Homo sapiens: one gene and its partner. The gene in region 1 interacts genetically with each later gene. Each region holds a gene or a part of one and is shown in the gene's direction. Other genes may lie near its edges.

Evidence for each region.
Region 2: changes in PPP1R15B (region 1) and GBF1 together harm fitness more than expected from each alone (negative genetic interaction), as found in Homo sapiens cells (one study listed by BioGRID).

The regions. Positions count from the first base shown.
Region 1 is NC_000001.11:204,408,868-204,413,451, reverse strand, and holds the start of PPP1R15B (protein phosphatase 1 regulatory subunit 15B), read left to right. Parts: upstream 1-1,634; 5' UTR 1,635-2,040; coding exon 2,041-3,960; intron 3,961-4,584. UniProt on the Homo sapiens protein: Maintains low levels of EIF2S1 phosphorylation in unstressed cells by promoting its dephosphorylation by PP1.
Region 2 is NC_000010.11:102,374,220-102,378,031, forward strand, and holds part of GBF1 (Golgi-specific brefeldin A-resistance guanine nucleotide exchange factor 1), read left to right. Parts: intron 1-1,139; coding exon 1,140-1,365; intron 1,366-2,052; coding exon 2,053-2,213; intron 2,214-2,340; coding exon 2,341-2,581; intron 2,582-2,715; coding exon 2,716-2,921; intron 2,922-3,812. UniProt on the Homo sapiens protein: Guanine-nucleotide exchange factor (GEF) for members of the Arf family of small GTPases involved in trafficking in the early secretory pathway; its GEF activity initiates the coating of nascent vesicles via the localized generation of activated ARFs through replacement of GDP with GTP.

The DNA.
Region 1 (4,584 bases):
AGATAATCAAATACAGCAATTAAAATTACCAGCCATTTTTTTTTTCAAAGGATAGTGGTCCATGTTTCCTTTTTGGCTGTTGTATTCTGTGGTTCTGGTTGCTAAGGAAGTATTAATAAATATGAATTGAATATGTTGCCTGCTTGGAAGCATAAAAGAGAGTAAATAGTTCTGGGGACTGAGCTGCTTCTCTGTGAGTTTAGTTTGCCCCACACCAGACATGTATGTACGCAGCACTGCCCAACTTTTACATAAGATCTCAGGTTGATGGTCTACATAGTACTGAACAATAGGAGAACCCTGAAATATCTGTCAGGCTGGGCGCAGTGGCTCACGCCTGTAACCCCAGCACTTTAGGAGGCCGAGGCGGGCAGATCACTTGAGCTGAGTTTGAAACCAACCTGGGCAACACGACGAAACCCTGTCTCTATAAAAATATGCAAAAATTGGCCGAGCACGGTGGCTCACGCCTGTAATCCCAGCACTTTGGGAGGCTGAGGCGGGCGGATCACAAGGTCAGGAGATCGAGACCATCCTAGCCAACATGGTGAAACCCTGTCTCTACTAAAAATACAAAAAATTAACTGGGCGTGGTGGCACACGCCTGTAGTACCAGCTACTAGGGAGGCTGGGGCAGGAGAATCGCTTGAACCCGGGAGGCGGAGGTTGCAGTGAGCCGAGATTGCGCCACTGCACTCCAGCCTGGCGACAGAGTGGGAATCCGTCTCAAAAAAAAAAAAAATTTAGCTGGGCGTGGTGGTGCGAGCCTGTAGTCCCAGCTCCTCGGGAGGCTGAGGTGGGAGGCTCACTGGAGCCCAGGAGGTTGAGGCTGCAGTGAGCCGAGATCGCACTACTGCACTCCAGCCTGGGCGACAGAGCTAGACCCTGTCTCAAATAAATAAATAATAAAAATCTAAGACTACGATAACCCTACAGTTGGCCCGCGGGGCATTCAACCTTCCATGGATTGAAAATATTCGGGAAAAATAAAGATAATAAAACATAATACAAATAAATACAGTATAACAACTAGTTCCATAGCACTTGCATTGTATTAGGTATTATACTTAATCTAGGGGATGGTTTAAATATCTGGGAAGGTGTATGCAGGTTATATGCAAACACTATACCATTTTACATAAGGGACTTGACCGTCTGCGGATTCTGGTGTCTACGGGGTCCTGGAACTAATCCCCATTTCATGAGAGGGGATGACTGTACACACGTCAGTGTGTATTAGGCCATCAAAACGCCTCCGGGAAATTCTCGGGTTATTTTGAAAACCCCTCCCCTCCCCAAGACCTTTAACCTAGAGGGCTGTTGGGGCGGTCTCCTAGGAGACCACACAGAAACGACTGCGCATGCGTGCATTCCCCCCCCCCCCCCCCCCCCCCCCCCCGCCCCGGCTGATGCAACCTCACGCTGCCGTGCGGCTCTACCTCGAGTAAGGAAGCCGACAGGGAAATCTGGCAAAACCAATCGGCGGCCACACGGAAGTGGGCGGAAAGGCCCGCCCCCCGGGGATTTTGCGAGTGACGTTGGGCGGCGCGGCGCTAGGGACGTAGACGCCCAACAGTCCTGCGTCTCTTCCGGCGTCTAGGGGGGTGTCCTGCCGGCGCGCGGGCCCTGCGGCCATTTTGGGCTTCGCTTCCACCGCACCAGCCGGCCTACCCAGTCCTTCCGGTATCGCGTTGCTCAGGGGCTTTTCAACCCTCTGTCAGTCGGAAAACCATCGCCGAGGCCGTGGGGGGACTCCTATCCATGGTGTTGAAGCGTCGAGCCGACTAGGGAACCTCCTTCCCCGCCAGGATGGAAGTCGCATCAGTCGCCGCCTATTGCGCGGGCTGTTCTTCCCTGTGTTCTGCCGCCCGCTGCCGCATTCGCTGCCCTCTGTGGCTTTTCTGCTGGCTCGAAGATCGGCCTGGAGCAGCGACGCCACCGCTGGGCAAGGCCGAGACTCTGTAGGCTTCCTCCGAATCCCGTCGACCTCCAGCCGCTGAGCGCCGCGGCCCTACCTGAGAGACTGTCAAGAAAAAGGAGATGGAGCCGGGGACAGGCGGATCGCGGAAACGGCTTGGCCCTCGGGCGGGCTTCCGGTTCTGGCCACCCTTTTTCCCTCGGCGATCGCAAGCAGGCTCTTCTAAGTTCCCGACGCCTCTTGGCCCGGAAAACTCCGGGAACCCCACACTGCTTTCCTCTGCCCAGCCCGAGACTCGGGTCAGTTACTGGACGAAACTGCTCTCCCAGCTCCTTGCGCCGCTCCCCGGATTGCTTCAGAAGGTGCTAATTTGGAGCCAACTTTTCGGTGGAATGTTTCCGACCAGATGGCTAGATTTTGCTGGAGTCTACAGCGCCCTGAGAGCCCTGAAGGGACGGGAGAAACCAGCCGCCCCCACAGCGCAGAAATCTTTGAGTTCGCTGCAGCTCGACTCCTCAGACCCCTCGGTCACCAGTCCCCTTGATTGGCTAGAGGAGGGGATCCACTGGCAATACTCGCCCCCAGACCTAAAATTGGAGCTTAAGGCCAAGGGAAGTGCTTTGGACCCTGCAGCACAGGCTTTTCTCTTAGAGCAGCAGCTGTGGGGAGTGGAGCTGTTGCCCAGTAGCCTTCAATCCCGTCTGTACTCTAACCGGGAACTTGGCTCTTCGCCCTCTGGGCCTCTAAACATTCAACGCATAGACAATTTCAGTGTGGTATCCTATTTGCTGAACCCTTCCTACCTGGACTGCTTTCCTAGGCTAGAAGTCAGCTATCAGAACAGTGATGGAAATAGCGAGGTAGTCGGCTTCCAGACACTAACCCCAGAGAGCAGCTGCCTGAGAGAGGACCATTGTCATCCCCAGCCGCTGAGTGCAGAACTCATTCCGGCCTCGTGGCAGGGATGTCCACCTCTTTCTACGGAAGGCCTACCAGAAATTCACCATCTTCGCATGAAACGGCTGGAATTCCTTCAACAGGCTAGCAAGGGGCAAGATTTACCCACCCCTGACCAGGATAATGGCTACCACAGCCTGGAGGAGGAACACAGCCTTCTCCGGATGGATCCAAAACACTGCAGAGATAACCCAACACAGTTTGTTCCTGCTGCTGGAGACATTCCTGGAAACACCCAGGAATCCACTGAAGAAAAAATAGAATTATTAACTACAGAGGTTCCACTTGCTTTGGAAGAAGAGAGCCCTTCTGAGGGCTGTCCATCTAGTGAGATACCTATGGAAAAGGAGCCTGGAGAGGGCCGAATAAGTGTAGTTGATTACTCATACCTAGAAGGTGACCTTCCCATTTCTGCCAGACCAGCTTGTAGTAACAAACTGATAGATTATATTTTGGGAGGTGCATCCAGTGACCTGGAAACAAGTTCTGATCCAGAAGGTGAGGATTGGGATGAGGAAGCTGAGGATGATGGTTTTGATAGTGATAGCTCACTGTCAGACTCAGACCTTGAACAAGACCCTGAAGGGCTTCACCTTTGGAACTCTTTCTGCAGTGTAGATCCTTATAATCCCCAGAACTTTACAGCAACAATTCAGACTGCTGCCAGAATTGTTCCTGAAGAGCCTTCTGATTCAGAGAAGGATTTGTCTGGCAAGTCTGATCTAGAGAATTCCTCCCAGTCTGGAAGCCTTCCTGAGACCCCTGAGCATAGTTCTGGGGAGGAAGATGACTGGGAATCTAGTGCAGATGAAGCAGAGAGTCTCAAACTGTGGAACTCATTCTGTAATTCTGATGACCCCTACAACCCTTTAAATTTTAAGGCTCCTTTTCAAACATCAGGGGAAAATGAGAAAGGCTGTCGTGACTCAAAGACCCCATCTGAGTCCATTGTGGCCATTTCTGAGTGTCACACCTTACTTTCTTGTAAGGTGCAGCTGTTGGGGAGCCAAGAAAGTGAATGTCCAGACTCGGTACAGCGTGACGTTCTTTCTGGAGGAAGACACACACATGTCAAAAGAAAAAAGGTTTGTTTCTTGTCTTTTAACATGCCTGATATGTTCTGACTGTTTTTATATGCTTAAATATAGCAGCATGACTTTGGAGGCTTAGGAGTGCATGTATTTTTGAGGAAGGCCTCTAAATTCATATACTTGGATTGAGAAATATGTAAATGACCCTTCTCCTCCTGTCCCTCACCCCCCACCCCAATGCACATTGTTGCTGTCCAAAACGAACATACCAGTGTGTAGATGTTAGCAGGAAAGTGCCATTTTTATTTGGGTTGGTAGTTCTGGACTGTTTCCTTACAAGCTTCAATTTTTCACACTTTTTAACGGACTATTAAACTTTGTGTGTACACGATTTAATTTTTCTAGAGATTGAAAAGGTCCTGTTACAGCCATAGAGTTTTAAAATGATTTTAAATGTATGTTGTCTGCAAATACTTAATATTTTTTTTGCATATAACAAGAGTGTCTTCATTCCTGTCCATTACAACCCAAAGGGATGATGATATCAAGTAGCAAGTCAGATTTATCTGGTCCAATTGGCCATGAAATTAAATAGTAATTTCACTGGTTTTGACATTACATGGTTTTAATTGAAAGTCAAAGCCAGTACAGGAAGTGGTATTGCCTTTTCTTAGGAAT
Region 2 (3,812 bases), on another chromosome or scaffold:
CGCACCTGTAATCCCATCTACTTGGGAGGCTGAGGCAGGAGAATCACTTGAACATGGGAAGCAGAGGTTGCAGTGAGCTGAGATCCTGCCTGCACTCTAGCCTGGGCAACAGAGTAAGACTCCATCTCAAAAAAAAAAAGAATTTGAAGACAGATTGCTAAGGATTAGGGATGGGGGCAGGAAGGAGGAGGTGGGTGTGGTTATAAAAGGGCAACATGAGCTGGGCATGGTGGTGCATGCCTGTAGTTCCAGCTACTCTGGAGGCTGAGACAGGAGGATCACTTGCGCCCAGGAGTTTGAGGCTGCTGTGAGCTATGATCATACCACTGCACTCCAGCCTGGGTGACAGAGCAAAACCTGTCTCTAAAAAAAGAAAAAGGCAACATGAGGGATACTGTTGTGGTGGAACTGTTCAGTATGTTGTTTTGTGGTGGATACCCAAACCTACACAGGTAATAAAATTGTATAGAAATTAATACACACAAAAATGCAAGTAAAACAGGAAATCTGAATAAGATCAGATAGTATCTTGATTATGATATTATACTATAGTTTTGCATAATGTTACCATTGGGATAAACTGGGCAAAGTGTATAAGGGACCTTTTTGTATTATTTCTTTACAACTGCATATGAGCCTATAATTTTCTCAATAAAAATTTGTATTTGAGGCTGGGTGCAGTGGCTCATGCCTATAATCCCAGCACTTCAGGAGGCTGAGACGGGAAGATCGCTTGAGCCTGGGAGTTCAAGACCAGCCTGGGCAACATAGCGAGACCCCATCTTTCCAAAAAAGAAAAAAAAAATTAGCCAGGTGTGGTCACATGCACCTGTAGTCCCAGCTACTCCAGAGACTGAGGCAGGAGGATCACTTGAGCCCAGGAGTTTCAGGTTGCAGTGAGCTGTGATTGTGCTACTGTGCTCCAGCCTGGGAGACAGACCAAGACCCTGTCTCAAATAATATAATTAATATATTTCTATTTGAAAAAAAAAAAAAAGACCAGAGCAGTATCCTAAATTGGGTCCTAGCCAAACTGTCTTCACTGGCCTAAGGAGACTGGTGGGAAAGAAAACTAGACAGGAAGCTGTGTGCCCACACAGCTCCCCGCTTCCCCGCTCCCTGCCCTAACCCCACTCCAGGTGCTGCTCTCCCTGCGCATTTTGCTACTGATGAAGCCCAGTGTGCTATCCCGAGTCAGCCACCAGGTTGCGTATGGGCTCCATGAACTCCTGAAGACCAATGCAGCCAACATCCACTCAGGTGATGACTGGGCCACACTCTTCACACTGCTGGAGTGCATCGGCTCAGGTGTGAAGCCTCCAGCTGCTCTGCAGGCCACAGCCAGGGCAGATGCACCTGATGCCGGTAAGCCCTTTCCCAGGGAGACTCAGGCTGGCAGATAAACAGTTACACCCCAGGAGTTGGGACAGGAAAACAAAACACAGGTTACTGTGTTCAGCAGATTAAACAGCCCTGGCTCCTGCCATCACTTCCAGAGCTTCCAGTGCCCGCTGGCTAGTACCCATAAGTTAAATAGCATGAGGGCAAATAAGCAATGCAGACGGCTGTGAAGCCAGGCTTCCTACTGTCCTGAGGACTGATTTGTCCTGAGGACTGTTTCCCAGTTTCTGTTTCTGAGCTGTCCCGAGGACTGTTTTCCCAGAATTCTGGGAAAATAGAATTCTGTGAGCAGACTTTATATCACTAAATCGATACATCACTAAATCCCAGAAACTGGGAAAACAGTCCTCAGGACAGTGGAAAGCCTGGCTTCATAGCCTTCTGCATTGCTTATTTGTCCTTGCCACCACTCCCTAGAGTGGTGCTACAGCTGCCACTAGATGCCATCAGGAACCCAGATTAGCCTGCCACCTTATTTGGTCAACAGAGAAACTGTTCCGGCCATCCTTTGGCCCTCTGGTGACAGAAATTAAACTATGCCAGAGAGAGGGGAGGCCAGGCCTCAGCATCTTTTTTCTGAGAGCCTGATTTATCCCTCATCCCAGTGCCCCATCCCCACCCTGACTCTGCCCTTCTCCCTGCCTACCATAGGGGCCCAGTCAGATAGTGAGCTCCCATCCTACCATCAGAATGACGTGAGCCTGGATCGAGGGTACACTTCCGACTCAGAGGTCTACACTGACCATGGCAGGCCGGGCAAGATACACCGATCAGCCACAGATGCCGATGTGGTCAACAGTGGTTGGTTAGTGGTGAGTGACAATATGGGCAGCAATTGAGTCTCTCCTGCTTGACCTGTGGGAAGAATTCCTGGTCCTCTGCAAGGACATTCACACAGGGGCCAAGCCTGTGTCCCCAGCTCCTCTGTGTACTTTACAGGTTGGGAAGGATGACGTTGATAACTCCAAGCCAGGGCCCAGCCGCCCAGGCCCTTCACCCCTGATCAATCAATACAGCCTAACAGTGGGACTGGATTTGGGGCCACACGACACTAAGTCTCTGCTTAAGTGTGTGGAATCGCTGTCCTTCATTGTGCGTGATGCTGCCCACATCACACCTGACAACTTTGAGCTCTGCGTCAAGACTCTCCGGATCTTTGTGGAGGCCAGTCTGAATGGCGGTGGGTCAGCTGATGAGGGGGCAGCTGGGGAGTAGCCATGCAATTATGCAGGGGAGAGGCTGAGAGGGGAGAAAAGGCAGGGTATCTATGCCTATATAGACACAGAAATGTGACCTGAGTCTGGCTCTGCTCAGGATGCAAGTCCCAGGAGAAACGTGGCAAGAGTCACAAATATGACAGCAAAGGGAACCGCTTCAAGAAGAAATCCAAAGAGGGATCAATGCTTCGCCGGCCTCGAACCTCCAGCCAACATGCCTCTCGGGGCGGGCAGAGTGATGATGATGAGGACGAAGGCGTGCCTGCCAGCTACCATACGGTGTCTTTACAGGTCAGTCAGGACGTAAGTATGGCACCCTTTACTTCCTCTCCTCCCCTGCACCTGATACTGGGAGCCTGGGGCGGCCAGGGAAAGCCAGGGCTGAGGGGAAGGGCCCATGTGTGCCAGCCCAGGCCCTGGACCACCATCTTCACAATATTCCCTTACCCAAAACCTTACCTGTAAGTCTTTATTTGCTTAAATTTATTTATTTATTTATTTTTATTTTTATTTATTTATTTATTTATTTATTTTTTGAGATGTAGTCTCTCTGTCACCCAGGCTGGAGTGCAGTGGCGTGATCTCGGCTCACTGCAACCTCCACCTCCCGGGTTCAAGCGATTCTCCTGCCTCAGCCTTCCAAGTAGCTAGGACTACAGGCGCGTGCCACCATGCCTGGCTAATTTTTTGTATTTTTAGTAGAAACGGGGTTTCACCATGTTGGCCAGGATGGCCTTGATCTCCTGACCTCGTGATCCGCCTGCCTCGGCCTCTCAAAGTGCTAGGATTACAGGCATGAGCCACCACACCTGGCCTTTAAATTTATTTTTAAACTAAGATTTACTTATTTTTTGAGTAGGTTCAAAATATACAAAAGGGTAAACTGATAAAACTAAGTTTCCAATCCATTCCTGTCCCCAGCTTCTGAGTTCCCCTCACTAGAGGCAGCCACTGTCACCAGTTTCTTGTCTATCCTTCCAGAGTTACCCTGTGTCTATTCAAAGGCATATAAAATTAATTATGTGAGCAGAGTTTATATCACTAAATTGATGGAGAACCAATTGCCTTAAATAGAATAACCATACAAAAATGACAAAAGTGGCTGGGCTTGGTGGCTCCTGCCTGTAATCCCAGCACTTTGGGAGGCCGAGGCGGGTGGATCATGAGGTCAGGAGATGGAGACCACCCTGGCTA